Homo sapiens: one gene and its partner. The protein of the gene in region 1 purifies or fractionates together with the protein of each later gene. This does not show direct contact. Each region holds a gene or a part of one and is shown in the gene's direction. Other genes may lie near its edges.

Evidence for each region.
Region 2: the proteins of IDH3B (region 1) and DBT purify together in Homo sapiens (affinity purification with mass spectrometry; 3 studies listed by BioGRID and IntAct, with this or other methods). This does not show direct contact.

Annotation. Positions count from the first base shown.
Region 1 is NC_000020.11:2,661,129-2,668,872, reverse strand, and holds the start of IDH3B (isocitrate dehydrogenase [NAD] subunit beta, mitochondrial isoform a precursor), read left to right. Parts: upstream 1-4,656; 5' UTR 4,657-4,684; coding exon 4,685-4,720; intron 4,721-4,867; coding exon 4,868-4,948; intron 4,949-5,114; coding exon 5,115-5,213; intron 5,214-5,306; coding exon 5,307-5,427; intron 5,428-7,744. UniProt on the Homo sapiens protein: Plays a structural role to facilitate the assembly and ensure the full activity of the enzyme catalyzing the decarboxylation of isocitrate (ICT) into alpha-ketoglutarate.
Region 2 is NC_000001.11:100,186,309-100,191,014, reverse strand, and holds the end of DBT (lipoamide acyltransferase component of branched-chain alpha-keto acid dehydrogenase complex, mitochondrial isoform 1 precursor), read left to right. Parts: 3' UTR 1-4,096; downstream 4,097-4,706. UniProt on the Homo sapiens protein: The branched-chain alpha-keto dehydrogenase complex catalyzes the overall conversion of alpha-keto acids to acyl-CoA and CO(2).

The DNA of each region.
Region 1 (7,744 bases):
CGTCCTCTCTTCCCATGTTACTTGCTCAACAACTCCCACAAGTACTACTCTTTGAATATTTTGGGGGGGTCTTTGATTCTTTCCTCAGCTGCCTGTTGATTAGATCTCTTCTGTCTTCACTTGCCTCCTGATCCCATTTTGCCAACACTCTCAACTCCCTTGTACCACTCTCTAGCAAAATATCACTTTTGGATGAACTCACTTTTGGTTTGCTCTCACCGTGAAATCACACACAATTGCACCACAATAAACTTCATGGTCACCAACCTCAACAGGGTGCTTAGTATTGCTCACAAAACTCTCTCTGTTTCTCTCGGACCTTGAACATGCACCAGTCCTACTTACTCACCAATCCTCACTATAACTCATCTCCTCAAATATATCTGCCCACCTCACTGTTCGTCAGCACGCTATGTTCACTGTCACCTCCGCAAGGTAGTGTCTGCCTTGGCCAGGTCCTCTTGGCAAGCTGGTGTATCCATTCCCCCAGTTGCTTCAGGTATTTGCCACTAACGGCTCAAAGCTTCCCCCTTCTCTGAAGGATTGGCCCTGGCCTATGCCATGCAGGGGCAAAGCAGGGTTGTTAAGCCTTGTCTCAAATCATGACAACCTTGAGTTGTCACTAATGCTCCAGAGCTCCCCAGGAGATGGGGCTGAGGTGGACTCTGGCTGAGGCCACATCTTGCTGAGCTCCTTCCCCTCCATATTCTGCTCATTCACCTTCTGATGTGTTTCTCCTGAGAGCACTCCTTCAACAGGTCAATTGCATAGAATCCCTGTCTTGGGCTCTGCTTCTAGGGCAGTTGATCTGAAACAGTAGCTTTGCTTACATTTCCATTTTCCCTGAGTGTAATCACTTCTCCTCTGTAATTCTGTTTATCCTTTCAATCACAGATCAAATTCTCCCAAGAAGCTTTTTCAGACGTTAATTTTCAAGGAATTGTCATTGGTTATATTACTCTTTTGATTGTTCATGGTTTCAGAAAAAGATCCAGTAGGCCTAATACACCAGAAATTCTGAAACTTTTGTGTGCAGCGGACCTCTTTGGAAGGCTGGTGAAGCCTGTGGAACCTTTCTTAGAAGAGGCTTTTAGGCCGGGTGCAGTGGCTCATGCCTGTAATCCCAGCACTTTGGGAGGCCGAGGCGGGTGGATCACGAGGTCAAGAGATCGAGACTATCCTGGCTAACACGGTGAAACCCTGTCTCTACTAAAAATACAAAAAGATTAGCTGGGCGTGGTGGCGGGCGCCTGTAGTCCCAGCTACTCCGGAGGCTGAGGCAGGAGAATGGTGTGAACCCGGGAGGTGGAGCTTGCACTCAGCTGAGATCGCCCACTGCTCTTCAGCCTGGGCAACAGAGCGACTCTGTCTCCAAAAAAAAAAAAAAAAAGAGACTTTTAAGTATATAAAATAAATAGAATTACAAGACAAATATGATTAAGACAAGCCTGGGCGACATAGCAAGACCTCATGTCTACAAAATATTTAAAAATTAGCTAGGCATGGTGGCGCATGCCTGTAGTCCCAGCTACTTGGGAGGCTGAGGTGGGAGGATCACCTGAGCCCAGGAGTTTGAGGTTACAGTGAGCCGTGATCACACCCTAGCCTGGGGAACAGACTGAAACCATCTCTCTAAAAGGAGAAAAGGAATAAAAGCTACCTTGTAACATACTACTATGTTTGCTGCTTTATTAATTCATTAAATAACACAATCTAGCATTGGGTCAAATAATGTAAAAATAGGATTAAAGTAAGTGATATTTTGAGAGATCTACTACAACTAAAATGTGGTATGAAAATATCTATACTTTTTATGATTGACAAAGTCAAGAGTACTACAGGCAGCACTGTAATCTGTGACCTGCATTCATAATGAAAGGAAATGCTAAACTTCAGTTAGAGGTTAGTGAGAATAAAGATGTGATTTTTGGTTTTTCCCCCATCCAGGTTCACAGTGCTGATTCCTATTCATGGACACCTAGGGGGTTCTGTAGATCCCAAGTCAGGACTCCTGTGCTGGAGGATTTGCAGGCCTGGGAAGCAGACATTCAAGTCACTCAGCTTCACACTGAACACTCAAGTGTAGGCAGCTCATCCATCATTATAGCCTCTTGTGCTAAGCAGAGGAGACTCCACAACAGTTAGAAGAGAACAAGATGGTATAACCTCCCTCCCATCCCCCAGGAGATAGGTTAAGAAACTTTTCAAAGGTCCTGACAGGATTTCTCCATTATCAGGCAGTATTGGTCAAAGATGCCCTCATGGGGACTTGAAGGCCAGGAGAGCTTGCTGAGTTCATGGGGAGAACACAGTGGCCTTCAGACAATAATGGTCTCATCTCCTTGGCCTGTGTCCACTGGTAACCTCCATCAGTTCCTTTCACCCTGGTGATGGCCACTTAGTGTTTTATCAGTTAGCAGATATTTTTTGAGTGTTAGGTGGGGAACAAGTCTGTGCAGAATTTAGGGATGGAAATGATGTAGTCACCCTCAAGAAAATTAGATTATTATCAGAGATTGGATTAAGATGGTACATCTCTCTTCTTTCTTATCCCACATTTCCTGACGTAACAGAAAATGTAGTTTTTTAAAAAGAGTAAATTTGGCGGGGTGCGGTGGCTCATGCCTGTAATCCCAGCACTTTGGGAGGCTGAGGGTGGCAGATCACCTGAGGTCAGGAGCTCAAGACCAGCCTGGCCAACATGGTGAAACCCTGTCTCTAATAAAAATACAAAAATTAGCCGGGTGTGGTGGCGCGTGCCTGTAATCCCAGCTACCAGGGAGGCGGAGGCAGGAAAATCGCTTGAACCCGGGAGGCAGAGGTTATAAATCTTCCATTTTTTTCTTAGTCAGAAGGAGAAATATTTGGAGAAGAAAAATAGTGACGAATATTAATAGTGATGTGGAAGCTGGGACGAGGGAGTCTATGGGAGCAAGACGGTGGTGCTCTCTGGTTTTGGTTGGTTTCATGGGATATATGAATGGAAATAGAGGAGTGTGTTATACTAATATTATATTAGCTATAATAACAGCTCTATATTTACCCAGTACTTTTCATTTGTTCAAAACTCTTACACATTACCTAGTTTAATCTTCTCATCCTACTACTATATAGGAGAATGTCGCACCTAAAGGATTGCAGAGGAGGCACAAAGCCTATGCATATTCCCCAAGAATAGAAGCACTGGGAATGCCTTTGCGTTGCCACCTTTTTGGCTGGTTGAGGTATATACGAAGGAGGAACTTATCACAGAGAACCTAGCTAGTGGTTCTTAAATTTCAGTGTGTATTAACGGGGAGCCTGTTAGAGATATATTTTCTGGGCCCCCATCACTGAGATTTGGATTCAGCAAATGAAGTATGACTCACAAGCCTGCACTTTTAACAAGAGCTCTGGTCCATCTGGATAGGTGATCCAAAACCATACTTCCAGAAGAGCGGGTGAGGCAAATCTTCCTGTACCAGTTTGTCTTTAGGTGTGTCAATTGTACACACCTAAAATCGTGACTGGAGGCCGGGCTTGGTGGCTCACGCCTGTAATCCCAGCACTTTGGGAGGCCGAGGCGGGCGGATCACGACGTCAGGAGATCGAGACCACGGTGAAACCCCGTCTCCACTAAAAATACAAAAAAAAAAAAAAAAAAAAAAAAAAATTAGCCAGGTGTGATGGCGGGCGCTACTCGGGAGGCTGAGGCAGGAGAATGGGGTGAACCCAGGAGGCGGAGCTTGCAGTGAGCCGAGATCGCACCACCGCACTCCAGCCTGGGCGACAGAGCGAGACTCTGTCTCAAAAAAAAAAAAAAAAAAATCGTGACTGTAATTGTTTTGAGACGGGTCTCGCCCCGTCTCCCAGGCTGGAGTGCAGTGGTGCCATCACGGCTCACTACGGCTTCCACCTCCCGGGCTTAAGTGATCCTCCCACCTCAGCCTCCTAAGTAGCTGGGACTACAGGTGTGTCACCACGCCTGGCTAATTTTTAAATTTTTTGTAGAGTCGAGGTCTCCCTATGTTGTCCAGGCTTTTTTTAGTTTTTATGATTGTTACTTTAAGGATCAGTCTGAAATTCCCTTTAGTCACACTTACACGCTTGAACTCATTTCTGACACTAGTTATGGGCCTGTCCTGGGGAGTTCAAGTCCGGGACACACTATTAGGGAAATAACTGTCAGAGCAAAGAACAAAACCCTGTAAGAAAAAACTACGAGGCGACGGGTAATACAGAGGTCCTGGGCACTCTCGGAGACTGGCGGAGAAACCCGACACACACCTCCCATGTCTGTACTGTATTCCTCGAGAGCCTGACATACAGGTATTCAGTGAGTACTGGTTAAAAGAATAACAAACGCATTGACACACAAATTTTAACAGCTTCCCAAGGATTTTCTCTCAATCGCTTGTTAAGCTCAGGTCCTCGTCTGATAAACATGACGCTACATTTTTCCCCCTAATGTTATTTTGAAGTTTCGACGTAGATTAAATATGGCGACTGAAAACAAAGCAAGAGACAAAGTGCTTGCGCATCCCATGACCTCCCCACCGGCAAGGAAAAGGAGAAACAGGCGTGAGCAAGCAGTGCTGGTTGGCGCAGAGAGAGAAATACCAGGAACTCAGTACAGGCCGGAAGTCGGGGTACGGGGCCGCGCCAGCTTCAGGCGTCACTTCCCACGCGACTTCCTGCGGGAAACATGGCGGCATTGAGCGGAGTCCGCTGGCTGACCCGAGTGAGGCCCCGGGACATGTCGGGCAGGGGCGGGCGAAGGAGCGGAGAGTTTGTCCTAGGGTTTCCTAAACAGGGCAAAGTCAACTGTAGTGTTCGGGGTCTGGATGTCTCAAAGCTGACCTTACAGGCTTGTGTGTCCCTGTTGCAGGCGCTGGTCTCCGCCGGGAACCCTGGGGCATGGAGAGGTCTGAGTACCTCGGCCGCGGCGCACGCTGCATCGCGGAGCCAGGTATGCACGAATCTGGCTGGGGTCTCTCTTACGACCCTGTCCCTTCCTCGCTGCTCCCTCCCCTGGCTTTTCCCCACCCCTCCCGGGTCTCCCTACTTCTCTACTCCCAGGATCCGTGCTCCCGCCCCAGCTCTATCTTTACTTCTCCCCTCTTCCCCCAATTGAGGCCGAGGACGTGAGGGTGGAGGGCTCCTTTCCCGTGACCATGCTTCCGGGAGACGGTGTGGGGCCTGAGCTGATGCACGCCGTCAAGGAGGTGTTCAAGGTGAGTGGCCTCGGGGATCAGACAGTAGAGGACAGTAGTGTGTTGGAAAGGACTTGGCCTTGACTGTGATGTTTTGGGAACCTGTCTCTGAAGGCTGCCGCTGTCCCAGTGGAGTTCCAGGAGCACCACCTGAGTGAGGTGCAGAATATGGCATCTGAGGAGAAGCTGGAGCAGGTGCTGAGTTCCATGAAGGAGAACAAAGTGGCCATCATTGGTATGTGTGCCCTCTTGCCACTTGTCCATGTGCCATTTAAAATCAAATGACCAAATGTTTATTAAGCCCTTCTCCCCACATGCTATGCAATTATATTAACTCCAGGGCAACCACCATTGGTATTTGGACATTTGTTCCTTCCCATTGGGAGCCCAGGAGTTGAGAGATCATGTCAGCTGTCTATGCAGAAAAGTTCCAGGGGTTCTGAGTCTGTCCTGAGGCTACATCAACTGTCATCAAATCTTATTCATTGCATTTCTGGAATACCACTTTTAGCTGCCCCTTTTCTTTTTTTTTTTTTCCCCTCCCTTCCTTCCTCTTTGTTTCTTCTTGCTCTGTCGCCCAGGCTGGAGTGCAGTGGCGCGATCTCGGCTCACTGCAACCTCCCCGTCCCTGGTTCAAGCAATTCTCCTGCCTCAGCCTCCTGAGTAGCTGCGACTACAGGTGTGCACCACCACACCCAGCTAATTTTTGTGTTTGTTTTGTTTTAAGACAGAGTCTCGCTCTGTCGCCCAGGCTGGAGTGCAATGTTGCCATCTCAGCTCACTGCAACCTCTGCCTCCCGGGTTCAAGTGATTCTCCTGCCTCAGCCTCCTGAGTAGCTGGCTGGTATTACAGGAGCGTGCCACCATGCCTGGCTAATTTTTGTATTTTTAGTAGAGATGGGGTTTCACCATGTTGGTCAGGCTGGTCTCGAACTCCTGACCTTGTGATCTGCCCGCCTTGGCCTCCCACAGTGCTGGGATTACAAGTGTGAGCCACCATGCCCAGGCTAATTTTTGTATTTTTAGTAGAGAGAGGGTTTTACCATGTTGGCCAGGCTGGTCTCGAACTCTTGACCTCAAGTGATCCACCCACCTCTGCATCCCAAACTGCTGCGATTATAGGCGTGAGCCACCGTGCCTAGCTGCCCCTTTTCTTTTGTCTTCCGCGCTTTAATCTCCTCATTTGATTTTTTTGGCTTCTAGTTCTGCCCCTATAGTTCATCTTCCATATCTCTTCTTGGAAAGAACAGCCTGATTTTCCAGGCCCAGCCTTACCATAGGAAAGTCAGTACTTTATAAGTTGGCCCTTAATTTTCTGCCTTGGTTCCACAACTCTTGTTCTGTGCTTCAATCACACTAGATTGTGTGTTAGATTCCAAATATGTACTACCTGACTTATATTGTTCCCTCCACCCAGAACGTTCTTTCTTTGGTGCTACCTGTTAGAGTCCTTCTCACTCATTCACTGTATTAGTTTCCCATAGCTGCCGTAACACACTACCATGAACCTGGTGGCTTATCATTAACAGAAATGTATTCTCTCACAGTGCTGGAGGCCATCAGTCTGAAATTAAGGTGTTGGCAGGGCCCTGCTCCCTCTGAAGGTTTAGGGGAGAAACCTTTCTTGCCTCTTCTGGTGGCTCTTGCTGTTTTTTGACTTGTAGATGCATCACTCCAATATCTGTGGTTTTCTTCCCTCTCTGTCTCGGTATCATTTTTCTCCTCAAATATTTAGCCCTGGATGGGACGATTTTTTCTCAAGATCCTTAACTTAATTACATCTGCAAAGCCTCTTTTCCCAAATAAGGTCACATACATAGGTTCTGGGGCTCAAGGCATGGCTGAAGTGCCAGCTCTTCTGTGCTGTATCCTGATATTACTGGAGAGGATTTCCTCTTTGTGTTGCTATGCAAGTTTCCCATGGTACTTATCATGTCTTTCATATTTTCTGTCTTTCCCAGTGTACCGTTTGCTTCTCAAGGGCAGGAGTTGTATGGTTTTAGTTGTTATCCTTATTGCCTGACATATAATTGATATTCATCAGTAGGTGTTGGGTTAAAAAATGTCAAATAAGGAGAAGGCACAGATAAAAAGATCACAGATCTGCTAGCATTGTTTTTCAACTTGTTGTTAAACCCAGGCTCTTTTTTGATAAATAGAAAAAATCTGTTCTCCGTTTTGAAGTTTCAACATAAATTAAATATGTTGACTAAAAATAAAGCATTAAGGCCGGGGCGGGTGGATCACTTGAGGTCAGGAGTTTGAGACCAGCCTGGCCAACATGGTGAGACACTGCCTCTACTAAAAATACAAAAAATTAGCCAGGTGTGGTGGCACATGCCTGTAATCCCAGCTACTGGGGAGGCTGAGGCAGGAGAATTGCTTGAACCTGGGAGGCAGAGGTTGCAGTGAGCCCAGGTCGTGCCACTGCACTCCAGCCTGGGCGACAGAGTGAGACCCTGTGTCTCTCACACACGCACACACACACACACACACACACACAGAAAATGCAATAGATGAAATGTTTCTGGCTTTAACTACATTATTCTCTT
Region 2 (4,706 bases), on another chromosome or scaffold:
TATCAAGAGAAAAAGAAGATACCTATTTGAATTTACATGACACTTTCTGTGAAATATCTGGATTACCAGATTAGTCTGAAACAAATGCCTTCCAAATTCTACAGCGCATGCCCAAGGCACTCTTTACAGTACCTGTTCGGGTCTTTTCTTCTAATTTTAAGCACCTACCCAAACGTCTTCCCAGGCTTGTCATAATAAGCAAATAACCTCAGAGCAGACAAAGTGATTCAATCTAAGAACCTTGAATTTCTCTCCTTTTCACCTCAAAATTTCTATTCTCACACTTTCTTTTTGTTTCTCTTTCCGAGAAGTGGTTCTCCATCAGCAAATACCAACTGTTTTCTGTCCTCTATTATTTATTCCATCTCTTCCTCCTGATCCCTGCCCCATGTTGAACCCCCATTGCCCCACTTTGATCCTTCAGTCTCTTCCTCACATCCAGAACTGTACCAGATTTACTCCCTTAGCACACTGATTAAAATTTATTTCCATTTCCTTATGGAGGAGGTATTAGAGACTGATCCCAGACCTCTACAAATTTCATTGTGGCAGGGTAATGTTATGTGTCCATAAACCTTGTTCCTTTTCTTTCAGCCTGCAGTTAGGTAGAGCCATGTCATTTATTTGTAACTATTAGAATATGGGTATATGGGTTGAAGTAATGTAGGCCATTTCCAGACATGGCCCATAACACTTCTCAAGAGATTCTTCATATTCTATCTCTTCCCCTCCAACATGCACCCTTCAAGGTTGAAGATGGCACCACACAAGATAGAAGGAGCCAGTGTTCCAAATGACTAGGCAGAGCAGAATGCTCCCCTCCCTACACCCTAGCACCAATTGGTTTGGATGTGATAGTTGAATAATACACTTTTATTGTTTTAAGACATTAATATTTTGAGATTAATCTGCAAGTCTAGTTAGTAAAACTCGAACTCTGAGCTGTCTAATGCAGTAGCCTCTAGCCACATGTAGCTATTTAAATTTAAATTTTAATTTTAATTAATCAAAATTCAACTCAGATATACTAGCCACATTTCAATTGCTCAGTAGCCACACTAATTAAATTTAAATTTAAATAGCTACATGTGGCTTATAGCACCATACCAGATAGCACAGATGTAGACTGTTTCCATCATCACAGAAAATTCTATTGGATAGTGCTGCCTTAACTAATAAGACACAAATGTTCTTATTTTTTAAATAGTCCCTAAAACAAACGAAAAACAAAGAACTCCCTTCTCTAATGGCAAATTTCAGTTTGCCTAAAAGAAGACTCAGAATGCTTTTCTTATATTGTTACCTCTGACTGCCACTAAATGAATAAATTTCCTGTCTTGCTCCTTCTGCCAAACTTCTTGAATGGGTGATCTTTAACTCCTTGCAATCCTGGCTTTTTTCCCCAGTGCTCACCTGTAATCAGTGTTGGCCACAACTCCCACCCAGATGTCTCCTAAATAGTTCTCTGAACCCACCTCTGTCCTGATCTACAGACATTCATTCCAATGCTTTAGCATTTCAAGGTCATCAAATGACTCAGTGACATCTCAGACAGTCAGACAGACCAGGTCAACTATGAACTATTTATGCCAAACCTTACATGGTTCATGTTATCCTTGCTATCCCATCAAAATAACCACAGGCTTTTTTTTTTTTTTTTTTTAATTTTTGAGATGGAGTCTCACTCTGTCACCCCGACTAGAGTGCAGTGGTGCGATCTCGGCTCTGCTCACTGCAACCTCCGTCTCCTGGGTTCAAACAGTGCTCATTCCTCAACTCCCAAGTAGCTGAGATTACAGGCATGCACCATCACGCCTGGCTAATTTTTCTATTTTTAGCAGAGATGGGGTTTCGCCATGTTGGCCAGGCTGGTCTCGAACTCCTGACCTCAAGTGATCTGCCCGCCTCCACCTCACAAAGCTTTGGGATTACAGGCATGAGCCACGGTGCCTGGCCTGCAGCCTCCTTTATTTTACAAAAGGCATTACCACTTAAACACTGAAGATAGCACGAATCTCTGATGTTTGCAAGTTCAGAATAAAATGGAAATGAAAATTCATTATGTGGCAGTCTCAGTACTGAGCACAAAGGCTTTTAACCACAAGCAAATTACTGTGCTAGCCAGACCGTGTGAGAGAACTCCAGGCCAGCTTGCTAAAACTGAGCAGGAGAATTTGGAGAGAGTCCAGAGGAGAGCCACAGAAACAACTGAAGCATGACAAGAATAATTGCAGTTCTGTTATAGAGAGGTCATCTATATCAGGCTTTTATGGAGTACCATGTGGAATGTTACCACGCAGAGCATGGGGAACAGCTGTTGTGACTCAACAAGAGACAGGACAGAAGAAATGAGAACAGGTGGAAGATCAATAATTTAGGTTTGATATGGGGAAAGATGGAACAGTCAAAGGGATTCACACTGATTTTTGGCTGAGCAGAAGGCAGAGTCTCCTCCAACGGGCAATGTAAGTGCCCCCACTCATCTACACCCCGAGAAGAGCCATCAAACTGTATTAAACTTGGAAAAAGCTATTTAACTTCAAGTGTGCTGCGAGAAAACTTCATAATAGTTCCTAAGATGTGCTAAAAAGTAAAGTCCAAAAAGATCATAAAGTCTGTAGAGAAGTTCTAAGAGTGCAGTCAGCTATAAAAACCTAGCAATTTAATTTCTTAGAAAAATGTAGCTGGAGTTCAAACTGTAGTAACAAAGGCAAGTAAATTAAGTTGTGGGCAGGTGTAATTAAGTTAATAGGAATGGCAGGGATGAATATAAATCAGAACAGGACTAACAGTTTGAAACATTAGATATTCAAATGCTCAGAGCTGATGAGCCGAGCCACTACGCTAACAACTCTGCAAACCAAAGGTTTCACAAATTGCACAAGAACCTGGCCTCGATCCCATTGTGTTGCTGGCATAAGATTAGAAGGGCCTGTTGGTTCAATTGTTGCTTTGGACAGAGGAGGACAAACTTGCCACAGTGAAGAAATCATTTTTAAAAACCACCACTGTCCTTTAGTGCACTAATTTCTCTAATAACTAGGTGTATATTAGAAATAATGATATATAAGTGCAGTATACTCCAGTTTCAACAGAATGGTGTCACTTCTGTAAAATGTTGATTTTCAGATTGTCATACTTTCTAAATACAAAAATTTGTCACAGCTTCCACATTTACAAGATATTAAACATTCCATAAAATATTTGTAGAAATATGAAAAACCAATTTTTGTAGTTGCCTTTTGAAATGTATACAAAATATCCCACATGGGCAACATGGTAAAACCTCGTCTCTACAAAAAAAAAAAAAAAAATACAAAAAGTTAGCCAGGCCTGGTGGTGCACGCCTGTGGTCCCAGCTACTCGGGAAGCTGAAGTGAGATCACCTGTGCCCAGGAGGTCGAAGCTGCAGTGAGCTGTGATTGCACCACTGCACTCCAGCCTGGGTGACAGAGTGAGACTTTGTCTCAAATAAACAAAAAGAGACATATACAAAATATATTAGAAAGTTGGGTTAATATCCTACAAACAAAGTATTACATAGTTTGCACAGGATTATGTGTGTAAAAAGTTTTAAATTCAGTATAGCTTTTATTTCTGCAGAACTAAAAGTAGTGCATAAAAATAAAAGTGGGATGAGCATATCTTTTTAATTTGCTATGCAGTAAAAAGTATCTCAGTCAACATATAGGAAACCAGTGCCATTTCTGTATCATTTGACACCGAAGGGGTATTGTTTTTTGTTTTGTTTTGTTTTTCTTTTGAAGAAAGACTTTTATGTCTTTTATTCTATTCTTCCGATTTGGGGTTTAAATTACCCCCAATAAGTTTGCAGAATATTCTGATTACTACTGCTTAGGTGATATATTTCATATGAGAACTATCTTTACACAATGGGAAAAAATATGGTAACCACTTCATTCATCAGAGAAGTTGTGTTTTGTTTACTTGTATTTTGTTTGCTAAATGAAATTGGTTATTTAGACTCATGGCATGCTTTTTCTCAAATGGAGATTTAAAAGTCATTTCCAATGTCCTTCTAACTTCTGGCCAATTCCCAGTAGGCTATAGAATAAACAGTTTTCATATAATAGTCTCTAGTGTCTCCACTGTTGATTGGTTTACAGAAACGACGGTGGTGGTGGTGTTGATGGTGGGGTGTGTGCGTGTGTGTGTGTGTGTGTGTGTGTGTGTGTGTATGAAAAATGACAACTGGCACAAAACAAACCTAAAAATCAGAAGTACATTTTAATTCCTAGTTAAAAACATTAACTTTTTATTCATAAAATACATATTTAATAATAGAAAAAAGAAAAGGGAATAATTAGCACTTAAAATGAACAATTTTTCTTAGCTATTTTAGTAACTTAAATATTTAAGGTATTAAAAGATTGAAACTGTGGGCCGGGGTCATGCCTGTAATCCCAGCACTTTGGGAGACTGAGGTGGGTGGATCACCCGAGGTCAGGAGTTTGAGACCAGCCTGGCCAACATAGTGAAACCCCATCTCTACTAAAAAATACAAAAATTAGCTGGGTGTGGTGGTGGGTGCCTGTAGTCCCAGCTACTTGGGAGGCTGAGGCAGGAGAATTGCTTGAACCTGGGAGGTGAAGGTTGCAGTGAGCCCAGATCACACCACTGCACTCCAGCCTGGGCAACAGAGCAAGACTCTGTCTCAAAAAAAAAGATTGAAACTGTGGGGAAAT